Homo sapiens: one gene and its partners. The protein of the gene in region 3 purifies or fractionates together with the protein of the main gene of each other region. This does not show direct contact. Each region holds a gene or a part of one and is shown on either strand. Other genes may lie near its edges. The genes, in order: VRK2, FAF2, SLC9A4, DNAJC18, PON2, EMC1 and ADCY3.

Region 1 (4,646 bases), about 44 Mb from region 3:
TTTATTCATTGTCACAACTAATTATTGCCACCATCCCAAACTCATAATAAAAACTTCATAGCACCCCCCTACCATCACATGTTTAAAATGTCTGACAATATATTTTGCCATAATTTGCATTGTTATAACTGACAAAAGAAAGGTTATTCTTACAGCAATGAAAGCTTGTTCTGGTATGTAAAACAAAGCTCTAAGGAAAAAGAAGATCAGACTGGAGAACCAAAGCCTAATTGAGTTTGCAGTGCCATACACAGCACATTCTGTCACTTACAGAGCCCATTGTTATCAATTTCACCAAAATAGCCTCTACTCCTAATAACTGATGTCTCTAGGGCAATAATCCTTCATTCTCTAATAATTCCACAAAGGGAAAAGATTTCTATATTGCAAGAAGTAAACAATTTGGAAATGGAGCATGCGAAATAAGTAATTCTTACCATTCGGATACCTAATTGCAGGACAGTTGACTTTTTAAAGGTACCATTCTGGCCTGAGATCTTCTGTAAATCTATTCCTAGTCTTTCCATTACCATAAATCTGTAACTGTAAGAAAAAAGCATCAAAAAGAGATCATCCTGAGAAAGTAATGCTTGAAACTGTCTATTTAATTTGAAACAAGAAAAATTACGCTCAACCTAACAACTAAGTATAATGCAATCTAAACCATTAGAGAATGAATGCACGTTCATAATTCTGCTATTCTTTTGCAGAAACTGCTCAATATTTACTTTGCAGCTGATTTTCTATAAGAGAATGCTGTACTGAACCATTCACACTGTTTTACATAATGAAAAAATCTTTCTAAATTAGATAGTACTGAATGCAATTCATTTTGACTCCATGACTTTCTTGCCATATGGCCTTGAACAAATTATTGTACACACTTGATTTTTTTTTTGAGACAGAGTCCCGCTCTGTCACCAGGCTGGAGTGCAGTGGTGCAATCTCAGCTCACTGCAACCTCCACCTCCCAGGTTCAAGCGATTCTCCTGCCTCAGCCTCCCAAGTAGCTGGGACTGCAGGCATGCACCACCACACCCAGCTAATTTTTGTATTTTTAGTAGAGACGGGGTTTCACCATGTTGGCCAGGATGGTCTCGACCTCTTGACCTCATGATCCGCCTGCCTTAGCCTCTCAAAGTGCTGGGATTACAGGCATGAGCCACCGTGCCCAGCCACATGAATTTTATATTTGTTTGTTTCTTGATAAGATCATATATACCGTCTCTATACATTTATAAACATGTCTTTAAGTGCACTTCTTCCTTTTCTGTTCTGTTTGGCACCTTCCATACCTTCTTTCCTTCCCTTCATTTATATATCCACATCAGCCCCTATTCTATATCTATGCATGCATACACAAACACACACACTTAGGAATTTGTTTTACAAAAATGTGATCATATTATAAGTATTTTCTCCATCTTACTTTTTTCAATAGTATCTCATCAAAATCCTTCTAAGGCAACTAGTATAGCTCTAATGGACTTCTTTAATGGGCTACATATGACATGATATGGATGTATCATGATTCAATCAGCCATTCAGTCCCCCAGTGGCAGTCCTTTACTTCAAGATTACTGTTTGCTCATTTTTTTAAATTTAAAGCATTTAGAGACCATTTCAACAAAGTACTGACATCTGAGCTTATTCTCTCATCTATGGAATAAAAATAATATCACCTATTTTAACAGGCTATTCAAAGGACAAAATAAGATAAAGTATATAAAAGTCTCTGGCACAAAAGGGTAAATATAAAATGACACACTTTTTTTCTTTTTTCAAACACTATTAATAAATTATATATAGGACTAGCCATATTTGGTGGTTTTAAAGATATTTCTATAACTTATTTGTTGTGCTTCTCCTCAAGAGATAGAACTGAATTCTCCTCTCTCAGGACCAATGGATCTATCTAGTGACTAGCTTCTAGCAAAGAGAATAAAGCAGAAGCGATAATATCCCTTTTAAGATTAGATTACAAAAAACGATGACTTCCTTCTTGAATGCACTTGTGTGCATGCTCTCCCCGTCCCCCAATTAATTGCTCTAGAGAAAGCCAGCTATTTTTCATAACACTCAGGTAGCTTATGCAAAGACCCACATGATCAGGAAGTAAGAAGGCCTGCCAACAATCACATAAGTAAATTAGAAGTAGATCTTCTTAGGCCTACCAGTAGCCACATGAGGAACCCTGAAAACAAATACTTCCCCAGATGAGCCTTGAAATGAATGTAACCCAGCAGACAGCTGACTACATATCCTTATTAGAGATCCTGATCTAGAATCATACAGATAAGCCACTTGCAGTCTCCTCACTCACAGAAACTAAGACAATACAAGTTTGTGGTTATATGCCAATATGTTTTGGTAATTTGTTACATGGCAATAGTTAACTCATAGACCACATAAGGAATAGTTATAAAGAAATATTTGATTATAATAATTCCATTTTACCTTCTTCCCTTGAATTCAGTCAGACCAGATCCATAAAACAGAGGAATTCCTAAATAATCAAGTTGTTTGCGTTCTATCCACTTTTTGACTACAAAGACAAATTTATTTTTAAAAAGATTCATGTTATTTGAAAAGATACTTGTCACCTTTCTACAGACAAATTTATTTAGCTAACCAAAAAAGTAATTAGATCTTCCTAGAAGATAATTTTTTTTCAATCAAACATCTCTATCTAATGGCCTCAAACTGTTACCACTATAATTAACAAAAAATTAGAAATTTTTAAATTAAATCAATAAAAACAAGTCATAGGCTTTGTATATTGATACCATATATATTAATGTTTCAATCTATAAAAAGAATTCATTATCTTATATACTAGCTAAATTTCTAAATATAACATATGTTAACCACCAAAAGATCAGTAGAGAGATGGCTTTTTCTTCCCTATTACTTCAAGATTTAAAACCATAATGGACCAAAAAAAAAAAAAAAAGAAAAAAAAAGCAGAAATTGGGCAGAAAAACCATCTTACTTTGAAATTACTTTATACAAAAACTGGTTTTGATTAGTTTACAAAAAATCAAATCCACTTAAATAAAGTTAACTTTCATCATTTTTTTCATGACTCTAGCCTATGTTTTTTATGTTTAAGACAGCTCTACTGATAAACAATCAAGTTTAATGGATTCTATTTGTCACTGTGACATAGTTTAAGCAATTAGTAAAGATTACAGTCTTAATGTTTAGAAGACTTTATTAAGAAAAACTAAGTTAAATATTGAGGTCAGACCCATCACTCTTATTCTTAAACATGATGTAAAGGACCTTGACTATACAGTCATTACTCCTGTCTACTTCTTTAATGTTTTTCTTAGCCCATCTATATCACATTTATAAAATGCTGTTATTTTTCCTCTCTGCTTATATTCATTTCCCATTCAAGTCTTCTAACTGGTCATTCTTACACTTGGTATCCAGCTCCAATTAATTTTCCAGCATTCAAGTTTCTAACATTTTCTTAAACATCTTAAAGTTTAATCATTTTCACATTTCCACACACCTTGCCCCAATCCATTCTACAATCGTTCTTTTTTTATACATATATCTACTTCCCATTTTAATGTTTTTTCCTTATAGCCGTCCTATCCAAATGGTTTACTGTAAAAGAAATAATTTCATTCTACTATCTTTTACACTTAGGGAACTCTTGGTAGCTTAGATTAACAACCTAACATTTTATGTAAAGTAGTAGAAACAACTTTGACTTAAAATATATAACCCATTATGTATGTCATGTCAAGATTTGTATACCATCTGTCTTGCTTTTATATGTTGTAACAGTTAACTGTATCACTTTACAATAAAATTTCTATTGAAAAGAATTTTCCAGAAGGCCAGAAAAAGACCAAAATATCAACACTCACTTTAGCAAGCACATATATGGAAGTAGCTTGCTTTGCTAATTTTACTTACTACAGTCTTTTTTTGCAACTCTCTGATAAAATTTAAGTTCTGAAAATAACGGGCCATTTTCTTGATATTCCTATAAAAAAAAGAATAATTAATTTTACTAGAAAAAAATAATCCCAAAGATGGAATTGTTATTTCAACTGTGAAAATATGAACATATATATGTAGTATATAATAGTACTTGAATCACTTTTTATAAAACATAGGCACCAGATTTCCACTAAAAATCTCAGAAAACACTAAATAAACTTGAAGAATCTAATTTTTAAACGACATATTGTACCACTATCCCTATACAGTCTTACACATAAAAGTAGTTTTCTTACAGAGAACACTTACTAGAAGCACTGAGAACTGTATACATAAACATATACAACACTCACTGTATACCAACATATACATCCAGGTGATACACAGCAAACTCTCCTTGTGGTCCACTCACACATGATACCTTTACTGAATGGTCTACTATATTTCATTCATTATACTAGGTACAGGGGACACCAAAAAGAAATAAAACCCTATGCTTGCCTTTAAGGACCTTACCATCTTGATTAGAGAGGTGGAGAGGGTGGGAGGGCATTTGGGAGGGAAAGAGAAAGAATAGCTAGATAGATAACACACCAGGGTAATAGCTGGCAATACAGAAAAACAAAGGTTCTCCAGTTTTAATGTTTTAACAACGTCAAAACAGATGATAACATTAGGTTTACTGA
Region 2 (4,646 bases), on a different chromosome or scaffold from region 3:
TGACCCCGTTGGGGACATTGTTTCATTTATGCACTCTTTTGAAGAGAAATATGGGAGGGCACACCCTGTCTTCTACCAGGGAACGTACAGCCAGGTCAGTGCCATAAACCATATAGATGCCAACTTACCGAAATGATTCTATCCTCAAAGGAGAGCACAGCCCAGCACTGATCATGTCCTTCTTGTACTCAAAAACCTTAATTAGCTCTTCACTGCTTATAGGGGTGGGTAATAAAAAAGACCAAACCTTTTAGCTGGCCCCTCTTTGATCTAATGCTGCCCTTCTTTTGAGGTCTTTTCTGCATAACTTATTTTACCATACCCTCAGTTCCAGCTGACTCATTCCCTGAACATAGTCTGTACTTGCCTACCTCTGTGCCTTTGCTTTTGCCGGTCCATCCACGTGGAATGCCTTCCTCACATTTTTGCTAATTGGAATCTTGCCAGTCCTTCAACTAGATTATGTCACGCCCCACTTACAGCTATCCCTGATTGTTGTGCCCTGTCCTGCCCTATCTCATCATCTAGAATACTAATCTTTCCCTTTGTTCTTCCATAGCTTTTAAAAATTGATAGCAATTTTATATTCTTTCCTATATCATTTGTGTTCGTGTCTAATCTCTGCTACCAGACTGAAAGCCCCTTGAAGGCAAAGCCTACATCTTCTTTGATCTCTCACAGAATTGAATAAGGACATAGACCATAGACTCAGGGTAGCACATCTCATTCAACCTCAGCCATGTAGACCTTTGACTCAAGACCTCACCATTCAGGGGAGGAAAAATTAGAGTTCTGTGGGTGTTTGGTATATCTCTAGTTTGCCAGAGAAATACATAGAATTAACACTACAGGAATAGGGAAAACTATGGGAATGCTGTGGCAATAGGCAAAAGGGGGTTCTATTATGCAGCCTCCAGAATTCCTGAATCTATCTGGAGAAAGAAAAATGCTCACCCTTGCTTCCTGCTTTCATTTTCCCACATCTGCTTTTTATCATAGTCAGTCTCCTCGCTGGCTGTTCCCACCACACTCAACAAAAACTGAGCACCTACTGTATGCCAGGCAATGTCCTCAGTGCTAGAGATACAGAGATGAGTGAGATGAGCACCTCCTGTGTACCCTCTCTGCTATGATCCTGAGGGTAGACCACCCTTGACCATGTCAGCAGTCGTACAGTGTAATGTGCTCAGGAGCACGCACATGCAGGAGCACGCACAGGAGTCTTCGGCGCTAGCCTTGTCTTTGAAAGTCTTTTACACCCTATGCTCTTTAGAATGCCTTTGGATCGTACAGTCCATCATTCCTACTCGATATGTGGCCTGGGATCAGGGTTGTCTTCGCAGTTATTTTTTACTTACAAGGATGTTGTAGCTGTGAAGTAGAAAAATTCTCACCTCCCTTTCATATGGTCAGATTCTCCTGTTTTTATCTTCCTTAGACTGTGGGTGCAGCTGACTTTTCTGTGGTTTGTTGGGAACCTGTGTTTGTAAGCCTGTCTACTCTCATGTGTCTGTTAAGTTTGAATCCTAACAACACTAAAACCTTTTCATTAAAGCTTGTTAGCGTGGAGTTTCTATAGGGAGAACAATGCCAGGGGTGTGAAGGTAGGAGCTCAGGAATTTTCTGATTTCTTGCTCACCTTTTTTCCTTATTTTTCCTTTTGTTCCTAAATACATAACTGTATCCATTAGGACCCTTAGCTTAAATATAAGCTCAAGGCACAGTCTTCTTAATAGTGAGTGACCTTCTCTTTCTCACAGGCACTTAACGATGCCAAAAGGGAGCTTCGCTTTCTTTTGGTTTATCTTCATGGAGATGATCACCAGGACTCTGATGAGTTTTGTCGGTAAGTGGATTGATTATTTTCCTTCTCTTTTCTGACTCTTTCTGGTGACAGTTTATAGTCAGCAAGTTGTTCTCATATCCTTTTCATACCTTTCCACAGCAACACACTCTGTGCACCTGAAGTTATTTCACTAATAAACACTAGGATGCTCTTCTGGGCATGCTCTACAAACAAACCTGAGGGATACAGGGGTAAGTTATGTTTCTTCTGCCTCATTGAGATTGTTGGAGTATCTTTGGAATAGTCTGGAAAGACATGCCATGCCATTTATTACAAGTGTGTTTGTTCTGTGGTAGATACGACGCTAGTTGCTATTTTATATTGTCTCATTTAATCCTCTCAGCAGTCCTGAGAGATGGGGGGTCATATTACCTTTGCTTTATGGTTTAGGAAATAGGCTCAGAGAGTTCAAGCCACTGGCTGAAGATCACACAATTAGCAAGTTTTATTTTTTTTGTTTTTATTTAATTAATTAAAAAAATTTTTTTGAGATGGAGTCTTGCTCTGTCGCCCAGGCTGGAGTGCAGTGGTGCGATCTTGGCTCACTGCAACCTCCACCTCCTGGGTTCAAGCGATTGTCCTGCCTCAGCCTCCTGAGTAGCTGGAACTACAGGCATGCACCACCACGCCCAGCTAATTTTTTTGTATTTTTAGTAGAGATGGGGTTTCACCATGTAGCCTCAAACTCCTGGACTCAAGTGAGCAGCCCACCTCAGCCTCCCAAAGTGCTGGGATTACAGGTGTGAGCCACTGTGCCCCGCCATAATTAGCAAGTTGTAGCGTACAGTCGGGTCTGCCAGATTCTAAAGCCCGTTCTTCACATTCAGCATTGCCAAAGCCTGCCACATTCATAGAAATACCCAGTCTTGGCTAGCAGCTTGCTTTTAATCTTAATGGGCTTTTTACTGAAGAGTTTATTCTTTTCATCAACGATTTTAACAGAGCCCTTGCATAGTGAGTCAGTTGTTTGAGTACCTTGAGTGCTGATATGGATTTGGAAAGTTCAGATCTTTGCTGACAATAACTCTTCTTTGGAGATAAGTATTTTTAGACGGTTAGTAAAAGATACGAAGGCATCCAGTGAGGAAAAATGTAGTCATTTTTGTGGCTACTTCTATCCAGCAACTTTTGAGTTTATATTAGCATGCCACATACTGTGCCATGTCTTGAGAACCAAAGATGTGGCAGATGTTGTCCCTGCATCCCAGAGTCTGAATCTTAAGCCTAATTGTTTTTAAACATCCAAATTCCTGCATGCGTTTTGCCATTCTAATATGGCTTTGCAGGGGGCAGAAGGGAGGTTGTGAATAGAAGGAAGGTAAGGATTTTTTTTTAATAGAAGTTTATAAAATCTCTTATTTCACACCATAAGGAAAACATAGGTAAAACTCTGTTATGGTAAAAATCTTGGTCATTTGGACACCAATTTTTTTTTTTTTTTTTTTGAGACCAAGTTTTACTCTGTCACCCAGGTTGGAGTGCAGTGGTGCGATCTCAGTTCACTGCAGCCTCCACCTCCCGGGTTCAAGCGATTCTCCTGCCTCAGCCTCTCGCCTATCTGGAATTACAGGCGCGTACCACCACACCCTGCTAATTTTTGTATTTTTTGTAGAGATGGGGTTTCATTATGTTGGCCAGGCTGGTCTCAAACCCCTGACCTCAAGTGATCCAACCACCTCCGCCTCCCAAAAGTGCTAGGATTAAAGGTGGAGCTACCAGCCCAGCCTCAACTTTCTATTAATAAGCTTCTTTGGAACAGAAAAACTAACCTTTTTAAGGGTGGAGAAAAGTTACGTGGGGAGAAAGGATAAGGAAAGGATTAGGCAAGAGAAAAAAAAATGATGATGGAGATTATTATCAGTATCATCAGGCTGAGACTTGCAGCCTTGTGCCCTTTTAGGTTTGAGCCCTTGTACAGGGAAAAACTGTGCCAGATTCTTTATAGATCCTTTTTGTACCATCAAGTAGACATTATCCTTAAACTCTGCAGCCTTCCCTGGCATCATCACAACAACCACACCGCCACCAGGAAAGCCTGTCCTATTCTAGTCAAGCACCTAGGGATAGGCATGCAAATTGATAACAAAAACAAAAGATTACAAAACTGGGAGGAACTGGGCATGGTGGCACACTCCTGTAATCCCTGCTTCTCAGGAGGCTGAGGTGGGAGGGTCACTTGAGCCCAGGAGCTGGAGACCAGCCTGAGCAACATAGTGAGACCCTGGCTCAAAAAAAGAAAAGAAAGAAACTAGGAGGCGGGGAAAAAGCGGAGACTAAATGATACCTCTCGTCTTCCCCAACCAGGATTAAAACAGTTCTCTCTCACTCATTGTGGAAAGTCTAAGGGTTGATCTTTTTCACCGTCAAGTCCTGCCCTTGATCTGTTGGGTCTTTTTATCAGTCTCACAGGCTTTACGAGAGAACACCTATCCATTCCTGGCCATGATTATGCTGAAGGATCGAAGGATGACTGTGGTGGGACGGCTAGAAGGCCTCATTCAACCTGATGACCTCATTAACCAACTGACATTTATCATGGATGCTAACCAGACTTACCTGGTGTCAGAACGCCTAGAAAGGTACAAGGGAGTTCCCTTCTGGAACAGAGAGAGACCAGTTGTAAATTTGGAGGGCTGACCTCTGGGGCTCTACCAATCCTGACTTCTTCTGTGCATCAGGCCGCTATTAGCTTTTAGCTTTGCCCATTTATTGTCAAAATATTTACATACTTTGACCTAAATTACTCTATATCAGGTAATCTGTTCTTAGAGATGTTCAAAATAAAGACAAGGGCTGGGTG
Region 3 (4,646 bases):
CCTGGAAAAGCATGTGAAGTCCCCCAAACCAGCATGGAGCTCCAAGACATCCAGAACAAGAAAAGTCCTGACCCTGGAGGGCAAGGGGAGAGCTAGGAAGGGAAGCATTCTCCAAGTTTCAGGTGGGTTAGCCAGGGACTGCTTGCCTGCAGAACATGACTCTCCACTGTCTCCCCTAGATCCCCTCCAGCCATTCTCCTGGTGCAGAAAGACTTTGGGTTTGGAGAGAAGGATTCCAATGATCAATTGTGCTTGATTACACATTGAGGACTATCTCAGCCTTATCCTGATCACTATTATAATCCTTTTTAAATGTATCATGGTTTATTATTTTTCATAAATCGTAACCACAGAAATGACAAATTATTCACAGTAGAGTTAATTCCAAGCAAGCCAGAAATGAGTCTGCATAAATAGGCATAAGTTTCCATGACAAATAAGAACAAGTATTTAAAATCCTGCAGACATATGACCCATAACATATTGCAGAGCACTGATTTCCCATCTTTAAAACTTATTAAAGAAAACTGCTAACATAAGTGCTATTTCATTACTTTTCCCTCAGATTTCTAGTTTAACCACTGTCTTTGTTCACCTGGATGAAACTTAGAACCAGTCGAGTATATTTGAAAGAAAAGAAATCATTGGGACTAACAGTTCATTCCAAGTCTGAAGTAATTCATGTAGAACTGACATGGTGAAGTGTTGTCTTTCTTTCCAAGAACATCTGTATTTACCCATGTCAAGGCTTCTTTAAGTCCCTAAGTAGTAATAGTAATAATGACTAATATTTCTTGCACATCTACTTGGTTCCAGACTCTGCTCTAGCAGCTTTATGTACCTGTTCATATGCGTATCCTGCATGTATGAGACTGGCTTCACATCAGGACAATACAATTGCATATGGAGGGAACCAATATCATCCTCTTTATAGACCGGAAATGACAGTGTGGAGAAGTAGAATTTTATTTTTCCTTCATATATATCCTGTCTATTTCTTCCTGGCATTTTATGGCTTTGACTGAAAGTGTGACTGAGATATCCTTTAGTGAGGACATCCATTAAAAGGTTAGGATCCTGTGACCTATTTATCAGTCTAGTGAATAATATATGTATGTTTCCAAATGTTAAACAACTCTCAAATTCTGGAATAAACCCCACTTTGCAAGGTGTATTGTACTTTAGTGTTTTGCTGTATTTTGTTTATAATGCTTATTTAAGATTTGTTCAAATGAATCTGCTCCGTGGTCATCTCCTGCTACCATAGGCATGCAGTATTGATGCTCATCTCTTAAGAAATAACTGTCGTCCAGGCATGGTGGCTCACACCTATAATCCTAGCATGTTAGGAGGCGAGGCAGGAGGATCCCTTGTGCCCGGGAGTTAGAGATCAGCCTGGGCAACATAGGGAGACCCTGTCCCTTTTTAAGATTTTTTTCTAAAAAAATTTAAATTAAAAAAAAAAAAGAAAGAACTGTGACACTTTCTTGTTTTCTCACTCAAATAACAAAAATAGTGCCAGGTTATTTGTACCAGGAAGATGGTTTAAAAAAATTAAACTATCGACCAGACTCGGTGGCTCACGCCTGTAATCCCAGCACTTTGGGAGGCTGAGTCAGGGGGATCACCTGAGGTCAGGAGTTCAAGACTAGCCTGGCCAACATGGTGAAACCCCGTCTCCACTGAAAATACAAAAATTGGCCGGGTGTGGTGGCACATGCCTGTAATTCCAGCTACTCGGGAGGCTGAGCCAGGAGAATCGCTTGAACTCAAGAGGCAGAGGTTACAGTGAGCCAAGATCGCTCCACTGCATTCCAGCCGGGGTGACAGAGAGAGACTCATCTCAAAAAAATAAAAAAATCGTTGGCAACATATAGGAGATAAAATGGATGATATCCTTGTTATATAGGGTTCTTCAAATTCATCTCAAGAAAATCAACAACCAAATAGAAAAAAACAAAACAAAAAACGAGCAAAGGCAGGAACAGAAAACTTCACCCCAAGAAATATCATTGTTTCCAAAATGTGAAAGATGTTCAACTTCACTAAAAATCAAAGAGATTCATATGAAAATTAAATCTGACATATAAATTTTATGCTACGATATCACAGATTACTCAAAAGTTTGACAACATCCCAGTGGTATTAGGAAAAGATCATTCTTACAGACTGTTGTTGTGAGGGCAAATTAGTGATATAATCTTTTGTGATGGTGTTTTGACAATATATGTAAAAATTTAAATCTATATGAATTTGACCTCAAAATTTTACTTCTAGGAAAATATACTAAGGGAGTAATTGCTTATTTGTTAAAATACCAATCACAAGTGGTCCAGAGCCCTTAATATGTATCATTGTTTATATTTATTAAAAGTTGATAATACCTTAAGTATTTATTAATTAGGAATTAGCTTAATAAGCTTTGGTACATGCATATAATTATTATTAACTCATTAAAAATGAGTATTAGATCCACATCTATTGACATGGAAACCTAGGTACAACATTTGTTCAGTGAACTAGGCAATTTATAAAGATTGCAAAACAATGACTATACTTTGCTTTTATGTATCATATGATGCAATGTTTTTGTGATTTTTTTGTGGAGGGAGGTGTCAGTATGGGTAGTGTGGGATCAGGCAGGTATAGGAAGAATTCTAGAAGGGTGCTCACCAAAACATTCTATGGTGATCATACCTTGGCATTAGGGTTGCAAATGCTTTTAACTTTTTTTATGCTTTTCTCTACTGAATGATTTTGACTTTGTATCAAGTATGTTTTTAAATCAGAAAAAAAGTTTCATTTTGAGGTAATTACATATACTCCTTAAAGGTTAAATACTAAAATCCTTTATGTTTAGTTTACGTGAATTTCCAACATGATTTTAACACTTAAAAATTAGGAAAATAAAAATAGATAACACGGCATATTACATATATTATGTCACCTTTTGCTAATAGCAAATCATTTTATACACATATAAAAATAGTAACTGCTTTTATTAGAATAATAAAGTTTCAATAATTCTAAGAATTCCACTTAATAATTAAATATTAAATGGAAAACATTTAATCAGTAAATCTGGTGAAATCATTTTAGTGAAATTAAACCAGCTTTGGAGAACTCTGCTCATATTTAAATAGTGGGTGAATATTAGAACTTCAATGAAACACTCCTTTCACATTTCTTCAAGATGAGATCAAATTATGACCCTTGGTCTCTATCTGGCCTACTTCCTCTTTGTGTATGGCATGTCAACTACAAATGGTTAGTACATTTTTAAGGGGCTGAAAAAAATTAAAAGAAGATAATATTTCATGAAAAGTAAAAATTATACGAAATTCAAATTTCAGTGTTCATAAACAAAGTTCCGAGTTTCAACTATAAAAGAAGTTGTTTTCTTCTTTTTCTTATCATGTAAGTAACCTACATAATGTTCTTAATGTTGCCTCTTGGCCCACACCCCCAGATATTTACCACCTGACTCTACAGAAAAGCAGCAGAGCAGCCAGGTGGGCAGCTTACCTGAGAACCCAGCAGCCCTTGTGTCTCTTCCTGCAGACTGAGGATTCCCGTAGGGGTAGGAGAGGTAGCGGATATTCTTGGTGCCAGCCTGTGGGTAGCAAGTAGAAAGAAAAAGCAGAATAAGCTGTCTCAATTAAGAGCTTCACATGGCAAATAAAGGGCCAGACACTGTGGCTCACGCCTGTAATCCCAGCACTTTGGGAGGCAGAAGAGGGCGGATCACCTGAGGTCAGGGGTTCAAGACCAGCCTGGCCAACATGGTGAAACCCCGTCTCTACTAAAAATACAAAAATTAGCAGGGCGTGGAGACGGGCACCTGTAATCCCAGCTACTCAGGAGGCTGAGGCAGGAGAATCGCATGAACCCGGGAGACAGAGGTTTCAGTGAGCTGAGATCGCGCCACTCACTGCACTCCAGTCTGGGTGACAGAGCGAGACTCTGTCTCAAAACTAATATAATAAAATAAGGGGAAGAACACAGACCTGTTCTGTGGCATCTTGTTTGGATTACTGGCTTTTAGTTTTTTTGTTTTGAGAAAGCAGAACACGCCAGTCTCCAACATGTATTTCCTTCCCCTCTCATGATAAAATAGACCATTAGCAACCTTTCAAAGTTACTCTCGTATCCCCACTGAGGTTAGGCTTGAGATTAAGGTCTGCTTCTCACCCAGCCTCCATTCAAATTGCCAGTAAGACTGGTTTGTTATGGCCTCCAATGGGAAGAGTGCAGGAACACAGTGGCTGATGTGAAGGTGACCCAGGAGTCTTGGTAACAACCAATCCCTTCCTATACCTTCTTGGGAGAGAAGTAAGCATCCTGGGATCAGAGGGTCTGGTCCAGACCCAGACCCCATGGTGACCAGGTACTGACCATGAGGACTGAAGGGCATGGTCAGTACCTGGTCACCATAAGGTCTGTGTCTGGACTCATAGCACACCAAGTGTGTGGCAGTCCCTGACCCACTGTGGAGGGAAGCACCCTATGGGCAGATGCCTTGGGGCCCTGAACCCAGAGAAAAAGGTTGCTCTGGTGTCCTGCACTCTTGCTTTAGTATCTCTCAGGTAACAAGGTGGGGTTTTGTTTGTTTAAGCATCGATGGTCATGCATGTGAGATCCTGTAC
Region 4 (4,646 bases), on a different chromosome or scaffold from region 3:
AATGATGATGATGATGATAATTGAGGCATACTAGCTTCTTGACCTCAGAGGGAAGACTGAATAGAAGTGGAATATTAGGGTATAACATGAACTGACTACCCTGCTTCTACTTTAAGAGAGGCAGCAGAAACCGACTAGACACAACACACATCTACAGGACATTCTTTCAACAACAACAGAACGATTTTCTTCTTAAGGATACATAGAATATTCTCCAGGATAGACCATATCTTAGGTCATAAAACAAGCCTCAATAAATTTAAAAAGATTGAAATCATACAGTGTATGTTCTCTGAAATCAAAAACAAAGGGAAATTTGAGAAATTCACAAATATGTGGAAATTAAACTACAAGCTCCTAATAAGCAAGCAAGTCACAGAATAAATCACTAGGAAAGCTAGAAAATGCTTTGAGATGAGTGAAAATGAAAACACGACGTACTAAAATGTATAGGATGCAGCTAAAACAGTGCTTAGAAGGAAATTTATAGCTCTAAATGCTTATTTTTTTAAAAAAGACTCCAAATCAGTAACCTAATCTACCTTAAGGAACTAGACAGCCTGGACAATACAGTGAAACCCCCTCTCTTCCAAAAAATATATATATACAAAAATTAGCTTGGTATGATGGCACCAACCTGTAGTCCCAGCTACTTGAGAGGCTGAGGCAGGAGGATTGCTTGAACCCAGTAGGTTGAAGCTACAGTGAGTCATAATCGCACAGCAGAGCAAGACCCTGTCTCTCAAAAAAAAAAAAAAAAAAAAAAAAGAAAGAGGGATATCCCTACCAATCCAAATACTATGAACAATTGTGTGCCAACAAATTAGATAACCTAGATAAAATCAGCAAATGCCTAGAAAGACACAAATTACTGAAACTGACCCAAGAAAAATGGAGGCCAGGCATGGTGGGTCACACCTGTAATCCCAGAGCTTTGGGGGTGCTGAGGCAGGAGGATTGCTTGAGACCAGGAGTTTGAGACCAGCCTGGGCAACACAGCAATACATTATCTCTAAAAAAAGAAAAAAAAAATACTTGGGCATGGTGGCACATGCCTGTGGTCCCAGCTACTTTGGAGACTGAAGCAGGAGAATCACTTGAGCCTAGGAATCTGAGGTTACAGTAAGCTATGGTAGTGCCACTGCATTGCAGCTTCGGTGACAGAGACCTTATTTCCAAAAAAGAAAAAGAAAAAAAAAAGGAAAACCCAAGTAGACCTACAACAAATAAGGTGATTTAATTAACAATCAAAAAAATTCTAGCTGGACATGGTGACTCATGCCTGTAATCCCATTACTTTGGGAGGCTGAGGTGGGAGGATCACTTGAGCCCAGGAGTTCAAGACCAGCCTGGCCAACATGGCGAAACTTCATTAGTACAATAAAAAACAAACAAAAAGACCCCACAAAAATTAGCCGAGCATGGTGGTGCACACCTGCAGTTCCAGCTGCTCAGGAGGCTGAGGTAGGAGGATTGATGGAGCCAGGAAGGGCGAGGCTACAGTGAGCACCACTGCACTCTAGTCTGGGTGACAGAGGGAGACCTTGTCTGAAAAAAAAAAAAAAAAAAAAAAAAAAACTTCCAATGAAGAAAAGTCCAGGCCCAGCTGGCTTCATTCTTTGAGACCAGTATTAACTCTGTAACCAAAACCAGACAAAAATATCATAAGAAGTCTAAATTATCAACCAATATCCCTTATGGATATAGATTTTAAAATATTCAATAAAATACTAGTAAAACAAATACAGCAATGTAAAAAGTATTATATATTTTCACCAAGTGGGATTTATCCCAGTATTGCAGGATTGTTTAACACACACAAGTCAATCAATGTAACATACCATGTTAATAGAATAAAGGACAAAAATCACACGATCATTTCAATAGGTACAGAAAAAGCATTTAACAAAATCCAACACTCTTTTTTTTTTGAGACGGATTCTTGCTCTGTCACCCAGGCTGGAGTGCAATGCCACGATCTCGGCTCACTGCAACCCCTGCCTCCCAGGTTCAAGCGATTCTCTGGCCTCAGCTTCCTGAGTAGCTGTGACTACAGACGCGCACCACCATGCCTAGCTAATTTTTGTATTTTTAGTAGAGACGGGGTTTCACCATGTTGGCCAGGATGGTCTCGTGACCTTGTGATCTGCCCGCCTCGGCCTCCCAAAGTGCTGGGATTACAGGTGTGAGCCACTGCGCCCAGCCCCAACACTCTTTCATAATAAAAACACTTAACTAGGAATAGAAGGGAACTTCCTCGACCTGATAAAGTCCATCTACAGAAATCCACAGTTAACATCATACTTAAAGGTGAACAACTAGGTGTTTTCCCACCAAGATCAGGAACAAGACAAGTATGTCTGTTCACTCTTGCCACTCTGTTCAACATTGTACTAGAGGGTCAAGCCAGGGCATTTAAGCAAGAAAAAGAAATAAAAGCCATCCAAATTGGAAAGAAGAGTAAAACTACATCCACAGATGACATGATCTTGTAAATGGAAAATCCTAATGAATACACACACACACACACACACAAATACTGTTAGAACTAATAAACAAGTTGGACAAAGTTACAGGATATAAGATCAATATACAAAAATTATCATTTTTCTATATACTAGCAATGAACAATAAAAAAATGAAATTAAGAAAATATAGTTGAGGCTGGGTGTGGTGGCTCATGCCTGTAATTCAAAACTTTGGGAGGCTGAGATAGGAGGATCTCTTGAAGCTAGGAGTTCAAGACGAGCCTGAGCGACATAGCGAGGCCCTGTCTCTACTAAAAATAAAAATTTAGCCAGGTGTGGTGGCATGCACCCAAAATCCCAGCTACTCAGAAGGCTGAGGTAGGTGGATCCCTTGAGCCCAGGAGTTCGAGGCTGAGGTGAGCTATGATCACCCTACTGCAATCCAGCCTGGGTGACAAAGCAAGACCCTGTCTCTATATACAAATAAATAAATAAATAGTTTTAAAAAAGAGATACAGTTGGCCTTTGAACAACACAGGTTTGAGTGGCATCAGTTTGAACCATGGATTTTTATATGTCAATTTTAAAAGATAAATACATTGGAAAAATTTTTTAGATTTGCAACAATTTGAAAAAGTGGCTCACATCTGTAATCTCAGCACTTTAGGAGGCCAAGGCAGGAAGAATACTTGGGCTCAGAAGTTTGAGACCAGCCTGGGCAACACGGCAAAACTCCGTCTCTACTAAAAATACAAAACTAGTCAGGCGTGGTGGCGCACACCTGTAATCCCAGCTACTTGGGAGGCTGAGGCGGGAGAATTGTTTGAACCCAGAAGGCAGAGGTTGCAGTGAGCTGTGATTGTGCCATTGCACTCCAGCCTGGGCAACAAGAGCGAAACTCTGTCTCAAATAATAATCATCATCATCACCATCTCACAAACCATGGAGCATGGACATACCAAAAAATTAAGAAAATTATATGAATGCATAAAATATATCTAGATTCTAGTCTATTTTATCATTTACTATCATAAAATATACACAAATCTATTATAAAAAGTGAAAATCTATCAAAACATATGCTCACAAACACTTGAGACTACATGGTACCATTTGCATTTGAGAAAAATGTAAACATACAGGTGCAGTATTAATCACACCTGCATAAAATTAACAGTAGTACTGTACTACTGTAATAATTTTGTAGTTAGCTCCTGTTATTTTGCTGAGCCTCAAGTATTGGGAGTATCTGCTTAAAATGCCACATGATGCTAATCATCTCTTTGTGAGCAGTTTGTCTCTTGAGTAAATTATGTATAGCAGTAAAAAGTGATCTCTTGCAGTTCTCCAGTTTTGTTTTTTTTTTTTTTTGAGATGGAGTTTTGCTCTTGTCGCCCAAGCCGGAGTGCAGTGGCACGATCTTGGCTCACTGCAACCTCCACCTCCCAGGTTCAAGCGATTGTCCTGCCTCAGCCTCCCAAGTAGCTGGGATTACAGGCGCCCACCATCATGCCCAGCTAATTTTTGTATTTTTAGTAGAGATGGGGTTTCACCATGTTAGCCAGGCTGGTCTTAAACTCCTGGCCTTGTGATCCACCTGCACTTAATGCCAGCAGGTAAGAAAACATTGCACTTTTTGCAAAATACCTTTTCATCTCATATTGAAAATGAAGCTTTTATATGGGTGCAGGACTGCTATAAGAAAGGCATACAGTCCATGATGTGATTATTACTTATCGCATGCCTGAGCTCAAGGCTTCCACTCACCTCAGTCTCTCAAAGTGCTGGGATTACAGGTGTGAACCCTGCGGCCAGCCCTACCTCATCAACTTTTTAGTGCAGACAAAAGTGCCCTATTCTGGAAAAGAAATGTCACAAAGGACATTGTACTAGTAAGGATGAGAAGTGAGCATCAGGATATAAGGCAGGAAGGGATAGGCTAACTCTGCTATTTTGTGCAAATGCAGTTCAGTTTATGATGGGGGCTGCCATTATATATAAAGTTGCTAACCCCTGAGCCTTGAATGGAAAAGATGAACACCAGCTGCCAGCCTTTTGGTTGTACAGCAAGAAGGCCTGGGCACTGAGAGCCCTTTTTCTGGACTGGCTCCATTGATATTTTCTTCGTGAAGTCAGGAAGTACTTTGCCATTAAGGGACTGCCTTTAAAAAGTTCTTT
Region 5 (4,646 bases), on a different chromosome or scaffold from region 3:
TCATAGCTCTACTATTTACCTGAAACCTTGGACTAATTATTTCACTTTTCTGTGCCCCAGTGTTGTAATCTGTAGGATGGGGTACTGCCTGCTCCACAGTGGGACTATGAGAATGCTTAAAATAATGCCAAGCGCACAGTCAGCTCAATAAATGTCATCTATGTAGACAATGAAATTCAAGCATAATTCCTTAAACCTTTGTGCCATACATCCCTTTGGCAGTCTGGTAAAGCCTTCATTCCTTCTCAGCATCATGTTTTTAAATGAGTAAAATAAAATATATAGGATTACACAGGAAACCAATTAAATACTGCTACCAAGCTATTTAAAAATCTATGATATAATATGCTTTTTAAATTAAACCCTTAAATGGATCTAGAGGTAGGTAAATGTCTAACAGCAGATATTTTGAAGTTGCAATGAATGTAAATGGCACTTTGAGCTATCTACAACTGAAATGCGATAGAAAAGTATCTATAATTTCTATTAGTGACAGTCACAAATACTACTAATAGTATTGTGGTTTGTTGCTTATACTCATCATCAAAGGAAATACTCAATTTGAGTTAAAGGTTTAAATAAAGATGTATTTTTCCCCCATCCAAGTTCATGGATCCCTGAATTCTACCCATGGATTCCTTGGTCACTGGACTCCATAGGGGTCACTTGGGGAATGATTGTGACACCAATGAAGGAAGCCAGCGGATACTGTTTGCTGTATTATACCTACCATAGGCTCGTGATGAGGAAATAATAAAATAAATAACTGTAATGAAAAAGAAAAGAAAGGAAAACAAAAGGAACCTAAAACAGAGAAGGCAAATAGCTTTCCTTTTGAGTGTCAATTTTAACAGACTCCCTGTGGTTGCGAAACAATGTGTCTGAGGCTGGCTCTGGGTTAGAGGGAGAGTGCTGTTATTGATTAGCAATTCCTGCATGACAGCAGAGTGGCAACAGCCATGCATCTCTGACCTGGCACAGTCATAAGCATGTTATAGACATAAAGTGTTAGGGAACAAATAGGCTCTAGCAAAAGTAAAGAGTGTTCCTCCTCTCATATCATCACTTATATGTGTTTATACCATTTATGTTGTATTTTTTACATGAATACTTTTAGATTTATTAATCTAATCCAAAAAGGTTTGTATAGCTTTCTCTATATTAAGAGAAATATATGTATTTCTTAAATACACAAAGTTCTTAAATCTGATGCCAGCGAGGATTGCTTCCAGCCACAAGTAACATATATCAGATTAATAGTAGTTCATTCAAAGAGGGATTTATTTTCCTCACATGAAAAACAGCTCTGTGGGTGACCCAATATAGAGCTTGTTCATTGAGCCAGTGATTATATCAAGGAACTGGGTTCTTCATATATTTTCATTCTTTGATCTCCCCCTATTGACTTTATAGCTGTATCTTTCTCAAGGATGCAGAATGGCTGCCGCAGTCTCAAACACTGCGTGTGTGTTCAAATCATGAAGAAAGGAGATTGAGTGATGCCAGCTAGCTCTCTTCTCGTGACTCTCCTTTGTATCTAGAACACAGTGTCTTTCCCCAAAACCTGGGTCATATGACTACACCTCAATACAGCGGAGTCTGGGAAAGCAAATATTTGCTTTGCCCACCACTACAATAGAAACGACAAGGGAGAAAGAAAGGGGGTTGGGCATGGCGTTAATTTTGTCAGCCGCTAGGGTCTGCCACCCAGAAAACAGAAGTCCACTAACAAGCAGGGAACTGATTGTTCTGCCAGGGAAAAAGTCTGGCAGTTTCCTACTGAAGAAATTTGGAAGTCTTGATGGTCCAGGAAGGATAAAGGCAAAACCTTCATTTTCTTTTATCAAAAAGGAAAGCCAAGAAAAAAATTAGTTAAGTAGAAGTTATGCACAACCCTCATGTAACTCTTCCATGTTAATAGCAGGTAGGCTGCATATGAAAACATGATATTATACAAGAAAACTAGTTGATGAAGATTGCCCTATTTAGCACCAATTACTTACGCAAACCTAAGTTGACTCTGAAACAGGAACCCCATATTAAACTTTTCAAACACATCAGAATATGTTACTTTGAACAGATTTTATTTAATCCAAAGAGATTATCTTTGAAAAAGGTAGATGGTAAACATCGTTATCCCTATTTTTGTATAGTCAAATAGGCATAGTAGTAAGTTGTGTAAAATTGACATCCAAACCAATGCATGATACTAAAACTTGGTGTACAAACAGCAGTTACATCCTATTGCTTTGTATCTACATCTGTTTCTGGAGTCATATAACATTTGTAGAATCTTGGAGGTGTTTTAGGCTCATCCTTATTTTATCCATAAAGAAGACTGACACCTATAGAGATTAACTGACCTGCCAAGGGTCATGGCAGTTTCACTGCTGAGACAAGAACACAGATCCCTTTACTTCTTTCTGAGAAAAGTACAAAGTAGTTTAAAGCAAAAGCTTCCCTGCTTCCAGCACTTCTGGCTAAGTTGCGCCGTGGGAAAATTGTTTTGTCTGATTCAGTTTTCTCATCTTTTAAACTGGAATAATGCTACCTAATTTACAGGGTTGTTTGAAGAATTAAATGAATGCATGGAGGTAAATCACTTAGAACAGCGGTAAATTATACTTTTTTATTATTTATTTCCTTTGACCACCCACAATTATCATCAGTGTCATCCTCATCATCACAATTAAGATTACTACCACATTAGGCTACATAAACTTTTTTTTTCTCTCTCTGTTTTATAATTTCAATTTTATTTTAGATTCAAGGGGTACATGTGCAGGTTTTACATGGGTATATTGTCTGATGCTGAGGTTTGGGGAACAACTGATGCCATCACCCAGGTAGTGAGTATAGTACCCTATAGTTTTTCAGCCCTTGTCTACTCCCTTCCCTTCCCCTTCTAGTAGTCCCCAGTGTCTACCATCGTCATCTTTATGTCCATGTGCACCATTGTTTAGCTCCCAGTTAAAGTGAGAACATGCAGTATTTGGTTTTCTAGCTTATTTTTCCTCTCTTAAATCACTTCTGTGACACGTAGGCCATGAGATTTATTGTATTTTTTAATGCCTTATTTAAAAATTTGTATTATTTAATACATTTAATGCATTATTTTTTATTATATTTAAATATTGATTTATTTGTACTTTTTGCCTTATTGCTATATTGTTTCAAAAAATTTAACATTATTTGAGTTACATGATTTCAAATACATACTGATTAACATTTTAATTAGAAACTTTATGTCTGATATGAATTGCCAAAATGTGTAGTTGGTACAACCTATGAGTCATTCTGGGTTATCTAGAAGAAACTGGTAGCCTGCCCCATACTCCAGAAGCCTTCCCCAGTGTCTAGACCTCAGAAGCTGTCAGGAATATGCACAGGAGAAGGACACATGGCAAATAGCTATTTCGTCTCTTAAATGTATGGTATGTGGGAACCACTGAAAAATGTAAAGTTTCTACAAGGTGCTATTTTTATTATTTATGGCTCTAGAGAACAGAGAAGGTGAAAAATGTGAGAGAGAAGGGAAAGCCAATAGTATGTGGCCTTCAAAACAAAAGATCCCACAGATATTGTCCCAAACTGCTTCCTGGCCCTCTAGAGTGGAGAGGGAGGGGGAAGACATCCTATTAGAGTTCAACATTCTCTTATTATTTCCTTCTTTTAATTTTCTGGGTATACAACAGCAAATAGTTTTGCTGAAGTAGTTACAGAACTAGTTGGTGTTCTCCAACCTTCCTATTCCAATACATACTGTCATGGATGGGTACACTAAAATCTCAGAATTCACTGCTATATCACTCATCCATGTAACCAAAAACCACATGTACCCCCAAAAGCTATTGAAATAAGATAAATACATTCTTATTTAAAAAAATACTGTCATAGGGATGCTACCTTCTTTTCTTTTTTGTTAGTAACTATTTGTGGGATGTCTTTGGTGTGTCAGGCTCTGAGCAATGCCATTTTCTCTTGGCTTCTTTGCAGTCTCTGTGTGAGGCTTACAGTCATTTTTCACGTTTGACTCTTCAGAAGGAAGACAGGGCTACTGGTTCTACATCTGGAACTCTTTTCCCACAACACCAACACTGAGAAATGTGACATGGTGCTGTGTTTACATTTGCATAGGAACTTGCATTATAAGTTTTATTTGTTGAGTTATTGGCTTTTTTTTTTTAATAACCCACATCAGTATATAGAACTTTGCAATAGGCATTTTTGTTTTAACTTCATTTCTGGTGCAGTTTTATTTTCCTACCCTTGTCTTTCTATTTTCTCTTTCATCTGCTTTAGACTTAAACTGTGTTTTATGTATTGCTGTAAGCCTCTTTAAACCCTTTCTAAAACAAAGCAGGGAATACATAAACAAATAGTTTTTTGTTTTTTGTTTTTTTTTCTTTGTAACAGAAATCGACTTAAAGCCTCCAGAGAAGTAGAATCTGTAGACCTTCCACACTGCCACCTGATTAAAGGAATTGGTATGTATATGAAAATGCTTGTTGGGCACATTGCATTTTTTGGCCATTAACATTAAAACACTCATTAATGGCATTTTAGCATGAAATTACTGCTTTTCAGTGGATAAATCACATTAGATCAACAAAAACCTCTTTGGTCAACCTCTTGATCTGATGAAC
Region 6 (3,829 bases), on a different chromosome or scaffold from region 3:
GGTGGAAAACAGGCTTCTTCGTTGGAGGTCAGTCTCAACTAACTTCACACTCTGATTCCTAAAAAAAAATGGGAAGGTGGGTGTGTACACATCCTTTATGTTACAAATTTCTTACTGGAAAGGTGACCTAAATATTAGACTTTCCCGAAAGAGTATTGAGTCTCATAAAAATCTCTAATGGAACAGCACTTAAGAATTTCAACCGTGTGACCACTAAGAATGGTGTAGATCCATTACCTCTCACATAGGCACTCTCCACGATAGACTAAGTGATAAAACCAAGCTGCAGAAGATTGTATTACCTGGAGAGATACCAAATTGTTCAGTGGTGACCTCTGGGAAACATGGTGGGGGAGGTTTTGAAGGCAACACTCACCTTAATTTGGGGATATTGTTAAAAAATTTTTTTTACTTACATAGTCTTTTTAAAATAAAGAACTTAGCCACAAAATCAAAACAGCTGATTGATATGAAGCACCAGTATCTCCATTATTGAAAGGTTGCTTCAAGAATGCTGAATAGTTTGTTACATTTTACAAAAAAATGAAAGAGCACAGGATGTTGTCTACCTGTTTTAATTATGGAAGGATAATTGTCAATTTTTAAATAGCAAGATAGTTATAAAGAATGTTTTCCAAAGCAATACCAAAGAGATACTTTTCCCTTTTAGAATAGAAATTATGGTACCATGCAGCTTATTTCCCCATATTGATCAGGTGAGCATTTGTCTTAAGGAGTAAGAGAGTTTGTCAGACCTGGTGTCCATGGCTTGCCAGAGAGGCAGATTGAACTATCTCTTGGCATTTCCATAAATATACAAAAATTAGCCGGGCATGGTGGCGCACGCCTGAGCCCCAGCTACTCGGGAGGCTGAGGCAGGAGAATCGCTTGAACCAGGGAGGCAGAGGTTGTGGTGAGCCGAGATTGCGCCACTGCACTCCAGCCTGGGCAACAGAGTGAGACTCTGTCTCAAAAAAAAAAAAAAAAAAAAAAAAGAATTATTGGGGCCAGGCACGGTGGCTCACGCCTATAATCTCAGCACTCTGGGAGGCCACACAGGCAGACCACCTGAAGTCAGGAGTTCGAGACCAGCCTGGCCAACATGGTGAAACCCTGTCTTTACTAAAAATACAAAAATTAGTTGGGTGTGGTAGCACACTCCTGGAGTCCCAGCTACTCGGAAGGCTGAGGCAGGAGGATTTCTTGAACCCGGGAGGTGGAAACTGCAGTGAGTCGAGATCAAGGCACTGCACTCCAGCCTGGGAGACAGAATGAGACTCTGTCTCAAAAAAAGGAAAAAAATCCTTTACTAAGTCACCGAAGTCTTAGAAATTTGGGAAACTGAGGACAAAGTTCCTAAGGGTTCTGGAGAAGAAGGTACAGCCATTTGGGGAACTATTTGTCAAGGAGCAACTTCATGTCTGGGACAATAGGTAATTCAGAAAACAGTCCCTAAGAGACACAATATCTGAAATAATAAAGGGGTGTGGTATATCACTCAGGAAGTTACGTGGTAAGCAGCCAGGATGGTTGAAGGTCCTGAGTAGCTGAAACCAATAGGGAAGACTTTATGGAGGAGTTCAGATTTGAGACAAGCCAGATTTTAAGCAGGGAAGAAAACATTCCAAGTAAAGAAAACAGAATGGTTTCATGATTTAAAAGCAATTTTTTCATTTTATTTATTTTTGAGACAGGGTCTCACTGTGTTGCCCAGACTGGAGTGCAGAGGCATGATCTCGGCTTACTGCAGCCTTTGCCTCCTGGGTTCGATTCTCCTGCCTCAGCCTCCCAAGTAGCTGGGATTACAGGCATGCACCACCACACCTGGCTAAATTTTTTTATTTTTTTGGTAGAGATGGGGTTTCAGGTTTCACCATGTTGGCCAGGCTGGTCTTAAACTCCTGACCTCAAATGATCTGCCTGCCTTGGCCTCCCAAAGTGCTGGGATTATAGGCTTGAGCCACCATGCCTCGCCTAAAAGCAAAATTTTAAATAATTAGGAATCAGGAAATGAGTCTTGGGATGATTCTGATGATACTTTGTGTAATAGGCTCTTTAAAAGTATGACAATTTATGGGCCAGGTGCAGTAGCTCATGCCTGTAATCCCGGCACTTTGGGAGGCTAAGGAGGGAGGATCACTTCAGCCCAGGTGTTCGAGGCTGCAGTGAGCTATGACTGTGCCACTGCTCTCCAGCCTGGGTGACAGAGACCCTGCCTCCAAAAAAAAAGCAATTTATAAAGGCAGTGAAATTACAATTATGAAATTTTCAAATTGAAAGATGCCTTACGGAGCACATAACATGTACCCACACACAAATAATGAAACTAGTTCAGATTAGATAGCTTACATTAAAGTCTCTAACACTTAAATTAGGAATTGAGTATTTTTTCTATCAGACTTTGTTCCAGAAACTATTTCAGTCATCTTTATGAATACATGATATTCAAGATACATTAGCTGAGCCTTTATAAAAACATCTCATGTACCCCATAAGTATATGTACCTAATATGTACCCACAAAAAATTTAAATAAAAAACTTTAAAAGATCCATTAGTTGAAAAAACAAGTAACAGAATTAAATAGCATCATCTCATTTAAGAAAACACTGTATACAAGAACAAACACTAGACTACCAGTGCTCATATACGTAATTAATGAATACTAAAACAAACTAGTTTTTGTTTTTGTTTTTGAGCCAGGGTCTCACTCTGTTGCCCAGGCTGGAATGCAGTAGCATGTTCATGGCTCACTGCAGCCTCGACCTCCCAGGCTCAAGTGATCCTCCTACCTCAGCCTCCTGAGTAGCTAGGACCACAGGCACATGCCACCAGGCCCGGCTAATTTTTTTTTATTTTTTGTAGATAGAGTCTTGCTATGTTGCCCAGGCTGGTCTGGAACTCCTGGGCTCAAGAGATCCTCCACTATGGCCTCCCAAAGTGCTGGGATTATAGGCATGAGCCATCACGCCCAGCCAAATCTTTTTACGTGAAACACCATGGGGCCCCAAAATTAACCTAATTAATGAAGACAGGAGAAGAGGTAAGTCAAGGAATACACACAAAAAACAAGGAATGACAAGAAAGCAAATAGATCAGAGAATTGAGAGAGGAAACATAGTCTCAGCAGCCATTAGTGGAGACTGAGTGTAGCTGCTCAGAACCGAATGCTGCTTTAAGATTAAGGAAAGTTGAGAACTAAGAAAAGATTTAAATTGGACTGTGGCATTAGCATTAACTATTTTAAGCACTTGGCCAAGCTCGGTGGCTCACACCTGTAATCCCAGCACTTTGGGAGGCCAAGGCCAGCAGATCACTTGAGGCCAGGAGTTCGAGACCAGCCTGGCCAACACAATGAAACCCCGTCTCTACTAAAAATACAAAAAATTAGCTGAGCGTGGTGGCACATGCCTATAGTCCCAGCTGCTTGTGAGGTGGAGGTTGCCGTGAGCCAAGATCGTGCCACTGCACTCCAGCCTGGGCAACAGAGTGAGATTCTGTCTCAAAAAAAAAAAAAGCACCTGCTTTGAGGTAACTTTGATTACAGCTGAAATACAGGGAATTTTACTAAAGGACAAATACCTTCCCTCCCAGTAGCTTGTTTCAGATTCTGGCACACTGGTAAATAAAAACTAGAATCTTGCAGGCTAACCTTGCACATATGTATGTAAGACAGTCAGAATTCCAGCCAGGCTTTCTCAAAACTAGGGCAGAATTTTTTTTAACTTGTACTTAACTCTCTTCTCCCAGGTTATGTTAAAATATGCCTTGGGTCAGGATGATAGATGCCTGTTTTTTTCTGGAGATTCTTAGACATTCAGTCACTCAAT
Region 7 (4,646 bases), about 78 Mb from region 3:
GCACTGATTGCTGCTCCATGGGTCCCCCATCCCAAGAGGCAACACAGGCCCAGAGCAGCCGGAAGGGAGGACAGATGGATCAGGAGGAGCCGAGGCTGGCAGTGTTTGCCCATTTCGCTCCCCTGGCCTGGGTCCTGCCCCAGGACCTGTTACGGAATTACTTGCCCTTTACTGCCCTAAACTGCCCCTGGGCTGGGTGAGGAGGAAGGAGGGGACTGGGCTCAGGACCAGGACCTGCAGGACCAGCGGCCAATGAGTGCGGACAATGGGGAAGGCAGCCAGGATGGTTGGGGGTGGTGGTGGGCGGGGCGTGCCTTTAGCATTTGGCAAAGTAGGGACTAGGAACTGCTGACAAATATTTTGTACCCTTACTTCAGAGCAGAAAGGCTATTTGGGAGCAAAATTCTCTCATGGAATGAAGAGCCTGTTAAGACCTTTTTTCACCAAGTAAAACATGAGGAAGCTGTGGATGTGCAGTTTCTTTCACACCTGCAAATTACACAGCAATCATTCACCCAGCAAAGGAACATTTGCTCCTAGGGGCTGGAGGGAGCTGCCGTAGGGAGGGTGAGAGGAAACTGAGGCTTCCAGAGACACCCTGTCTGCAGACGGCAGGTAGCTGTTGCATGCACCTCATCCCATTTAATCCTGGATGTTACTGGCTCCATTTCACAGATAAGGGGACTGAGGCTCAGTGAGGTTGAGAGGAGGTAGTGGGGCTGGATTACAGGGGAGGGGTCACTGATGAGTGAGAAAGGTGGGTTGGGGGACTTCCCTGAAAGCCTCTCTTTCTCTGGAACCCAGGCATCTGGGCCTCCTACTTTTCTGGCTGCCCCCAAATGTCTTTGCTAAGCAACGTAGCTGAACAGTGCCAAGAGATGGCAGTCCCTAAGGTATAACAGGAGGCACCCCCTTCTCCCCATGGGAATTGGATGCAAAGAAGGGAGAAGCCCATGACGATGTTCCCTGTGGGCACGTGGCCAGGAGTACTTGAGAAAGGCAGGGGGCTGAATCGGGACAGGAGCTGGTGTGAGGTGCGGTGGGCAGGAAGCAGCAGGCCTGGGGGCTTTCAGCCTTCAGGAAGCAGGCTGCAGGGAGAGGTGTGCAGGACACAGAGCAAGAGGAGGCAAACTCAAGCCAGTCCTGGCTCTTTGGCCCTGGGCTCCTCCACTGACCCGGGACGGGAAAGAAGCCGTCATCCCTCCGTGGAGAGTATGCAGATGGGCATCAGTGGAGGGTCCAGGGACCAGAACAATGATGACGTGCGTAGAAGGGGACTGCAGGGCCATCAGATTCAGCTGCATGTGAGGAGGAATAATCAGTCATTGAACATGTAAACAACTTTGCAGAAAATCAACCCCTCCATCCTTTCCCTGTCGCAGCTTTCTGTGGCCTTTTCTGACCCCGATCTGTGTATAAACAGAGCTTTCCCAGTTTGTCATCATCATGCATATGCAATTTAGGCCCCACCTTTCATCCACATTATTTCCCTGACATTTTGCTGTGAACACTGGACTCCTCGTGTTTATTATTTTAAATCAGCGCTTTATAGTCAGCGAGTTTTTCTAGAGAGGAAACGGAAGCCCAGGGCTGGGCCAGGGGTGGGTAACTGGGTAGTTTTATATGCACATGCAGGCACACACACACACACACACATGCACACACACACACACATGCACACACACACACACATGCACACACACACACACATGCGTGCTCACTCCTGGGCTTGGTCTGCCCAGCCTTCTGGGTAAACCCTCCGTCAGATGGAATGGCTGGGATGCCAGGGTTATTGGCATTCTGCAGTTTCTTCATAAACAAACAGCAAATCCCACGAGGGTGGTCTAATGCTGGGTAAATATTCCAACACCACCCTCTGCCCCTGGCTGCCCCCCCACCAAATTACACATTCTTTTTGTTTTTTCTTTTTTTCTTTTTCTTCTTCCTTTTTTTTTTTTTCAAATAGAGACAGAGTTTCACCATGTTGCCCAGGCTGGGCCTGAACTCCTGAGCTCAGGCGGTTCACCCACCTCGGCCTCCTAAAGTGCTGGATTACAGGTGTGAGCCACCATGCCCAGCCATCACCAAATTACACGTTCTTGATAATAGATTCCACGGGTATGTGCTATCACCAACACGGAGACTCAGAGACACATTGTGCGTAGGTCGAGGCCCATGAGCAGGGACAGTGAGGAGGTGGCTGTGTTTACTGAGCTCTTGCTCTGTTACAGTTTAGTGCCTTCTGGCAAGAGGCAAATATTATTTCCATTTTACAGATCAGGAAACTGAAATGGGTGACAACTGAAATGACTTGTCCAGGGCCACATGCCTAGTAAGAGGCAGAGCAGGATTGGAGCCCAGGTCAGTAGGATTTTGGAGTTCCTTCTCACTGGAGTCATAAAAGAACCCATTAGGCGGTGACCAGTAGCTCATGCCTGGAATCCCAGCACTTTGGGAGGCTGAGGCAGGAATATCACTTGAGGCCAGGAGTTCAAGACCAGCCTGGGCAACATAATGAGACCCCATCTTCATACACACACACACACACACGTACACAACCACCAAAAAAAATTCAGCTGGGCTTGGTGGTGTGTGTGTGTGTGTTTTTTTTTTTTTTTTTTTTTGAGTCTGTCTCCCAGGCTGGAGTGCAATGATGCTATCTTGGCTCACTGCAGCCTCCGCTTCCCAGGTTCAAGCAATTCTCCTGCCTCAGCCTCCCAAGTAGCTGGGATTTCAGGCACCCACCACCATGCCTGGCTAATTTTTTTTGTATTTTTAGTAGAGACAGGTTTTCACCACAGTAACCAGGCTGGTCTCGAACTCCTGACCTCAGGTGATCCACCTGCCTCGGCCTACCAAAGTGCTGGGATTACAGGCATGAACCACAGCGCCCAGGCTGATGGTGTGTGTCTTGTACAGGAGGCTGGGGAGGGGGATGGCTTGAGCCCAGGAGTTTGAAGTTACAGTGAGCTCTGATCATACCACCCCACTGCAGCCTGGGGAACAGTGAGACCCCATCTCAAAAAAAAAAAAAAAAAAAAAAAGAACCCTTATATCTTCCCTCGGAGCCTGTTGAGATAGTTCCAACGGGGTTAGGGTTTTGGTTTCTCAACCCACAAGCATTAGAAGGAGCAATTTGGGGGATGAGGAGGTGTTTTTGGGGGCATCTTCAAGGAACAGAGATGTCTGGGGTGTTGAGTGTTGCAACCAACAGCCCTCATATGCACCTTCTCTGGCTGTAGGAGGCGTTGTTACATTATAGGACAGCATAGTAACTGATGTGCATAATGGTGACCAACTCATCAAGAAAATATTAAGGCCAGGCGCGGTGGCTCACACCTGTAATCCCGGCACTTTGGAAGGCCGAGGTGGGTGGATCACGAGGTCAGGAGATCGAGACCATCCTGGCCAACATGGTGAAACCCTATCTCTATTAAAATACAAAAAATCAGCCGGGCGTGGTGATGCACGCCTGTAGTCCCAGCTACTGGGGAGGCTGAGGCAGGAGAATTGCTTGAACTTGGGAGGCAGAGAGTGCAGTGAGCTGAGATTGTGCCTGGTGACAGAGGGAGACTCTGTCTCACAAAAAAAAAAAAAAAAGAAAAGAAAAGAAAGGAAATATTAAATTGCATTTAGCATAAAGTGTAGTGTAGTATCTAAAAACATTTTCCTCGGGAATGGATAACACAAGTTTGAACAAATAAGGATTATATTTGGAAATTCAGTAATGTGGGATGGCTCATTACTCAGTGTTACTGAGTATATGTCCATTTATTCACCATGTGTTTTAGTTATCCACTGCTGTGTAACAAACAGCCCCAAAATTTGGAGGCTTAAAAGAGTAACAGTTTAAACCTGGGCAACATGGCAAAACTCTTGTCTCTACAAATGGTACAAAAATCAGCCAGGCATGGTAGCATGTGCCAGTAGTCCCAGCTACTCAGAAGGCTGAGGTGGGAGGATTATGAGCCCCGGATGCTGCAATGAGCCATGATCGTGACACTGCACTCCAGCCTGGGTGACAGAGCAAGACCGGTCTCAAAAAAGAATAAAAAAAGAATGACAGTTTATTGTTTCTCATGATCCTGTGGGTTGACTGTTCAGCTGGGTGGTTTTTGTGCTTCACGTGGCATGGGCTGGGGTCACTCATTTGTCCACCTGCGCTGTTTCATTCACCTGCAGCATTCAGTTGCCAGCTATGCTGGCAAGTTCTAAGAAGCCTTTACTCATGTCTGGAGCCTCAGAGCTCCTCCTCCTGACCTCTCCATGTGGCTAACTTGGGCTTCCTCACAGCATGGTGGTCTCAGAGAGAAGGTGGAAGCTATCACAGTTTTTAAAGGTTAGGCTCATCACTATCGGCTACAAGAAGTCCAGGCTAACTCAGATGCAAGAGGAAATTGATTCTATCTTTTGATGTTTGAGTAGCGTGTGTAAGGGAGGGAATGAATTGATAGCAGCTGTCTTCTGAGGCTGTCTGAGAAACCAGGAGGCACATGGGGGATGCTGGGGAGACGGAACTAATTAAAGCCATGAGATTGGGTAGGGTCCAAAATACTCTGTGACCACAGAATGCTTCAAAAGTTAGAAATGTGGCCCAGAGCCCAGTGTTTTTAACTCCATTAAGGTATTGATTCTCTGTAGGATCC

What was found.
Region 1: the proteins of SLC9A4 (region 3) and VRK2 purify together in Homo sapiens (affinity purification with mass spectrometry; one large-scale study listed by BioGRID and IntAct). This does not show direct contact.
Region 2: the proteins of SLC9A4 (region 3) and FAF2 purify together in Homo sapiens (affinity purification with mass spectrometry; one large-scale study listed by BioGRID and IntAct). This does not show direct contact.
Region 4: the proteins of SLC9A4 (region 3) and DNAJC18 purify together in Homo sapiens (affinity purification with mass spectrometry; one large-scale study listed by BioGRID and IntAct). This does not show direct contact.
Region 5: the proteins of SLC9A4 (region 3) and PON2 purify together in Homo sapiens (affinity purification with mass spectrometry; one large-scale study listed by BioGRID and IntAct). This does not show direct contact.
Region 6: the proteins of SLC9A4 (region 3) and EMC1 purify together in Homo sapiens (affinity purification with mass spectrometry; one large-scale study listed by BioGRID and IntAct). This does not show direct contact.
Region 7: the proteins of SLC9A4 (region 3) and ADCY3 purify together in Homo sapiens (affinity purification with mass spectrometry; one large-scale study listed by BioGRID and IntAct). This does not show direct contact.

The regions. Positions count from the first base shown.
Region 1 is NC_000002.12:58,084,238-58,088,883, reverse strand, and holds part of VRK2 (serine/threonine-protein kinase VRK2), read right to left. Parts: intron 4,004-4,646; coding exon 3,934-4,003; exon of another isoform or gene 3,885-3,933; intron 2,546-3,884; coding exon 2,458-2,545; intron 544-2,457; coding exon 438-543; intron 1-437. UniProt on the Homo sapiens protein: Serine/threonine kinase that regulates several signal transduction pathways.
Region 2 is NC_000005.10:176,492,239-176,496,884, forward strand, and holds part of FAF2 (FAS-associated factor 2), read left to right. Parts: coding exon 1-94; intron 95-1,760; coding exon 1,761-1,846; intron 1,847-1,945; coding exon 1,946-2,037; intron 2,038-4,247; coding exon 4,248-4,425; intron 4,426-4,646. UniProt on the Homo sapiens protein: Plays an important role in endoplasmic reticulum-associated degradation (ERAD) that mediates ubiquitin-dependent degradation of misfolded endoplasmic reticulum proteins.
Region 3 is NC_000002.12:102,525,226-102,529,871, reverse strand, and holds part of SLC9A4 (sodium/hydrogen exchanger 4 precursor), read right to left. Parts: intron 3,614-4,646; coding exon 3,526-3,613; intron 1-3,525. UniProt on the Homo sapiens protein: Electroneutral antiporter that exchanges sodium for protons or ammonium ions at the basolateral membrane of epithelia to regulate cell volume and intracellular pH upon hypertonic conditions.
Region 4 is NC_000005.10:139,432,638-139,437,283, reverse strand, and holds part of DNAJC18 (dnaJ homolog subfamily C member 18), read left to right. Parts: intron 1-4,646.
Region 5 is NC_000007.14:95,424,356-95,429,001, reverse strand, and holds part of PON2 (serum paraoxonase/arylesterase 2), read left to right. Parts: intron 1-4,416; coding exon 4,417-4,487; intron 4,488-4,646. UniProt on the Homo sapiens protein: Capable of hydrolyzing lactones and a number of aromatic carboxylic acid esters. Has antioxidant activity. Is not associated with high density lipoprotein.
Region 6 is NC_000001.11:19,214,014-19,217,842, forward strand, and holds the end of EMC1 (ER membrane protein complex subunit 1 isoform 1 precursor), read right to left. Parts: 3' UTR 1,647-3,829; downstream 1-1,646. UniProt on the Homo sapiens protein: Part of the endoplasmic reticulum membrane protein complex (EMC) that enables the energy-independent insertion into endoplasmic reticulum membranes of newly synthesized membrane proteins.
Region 7 is NC_000002.12:24,909,616-24,914,261, reverse strand, and holds part of ADCY3 (adenylate cyclase type 3), read left to right. Parts: intron 1-4,646.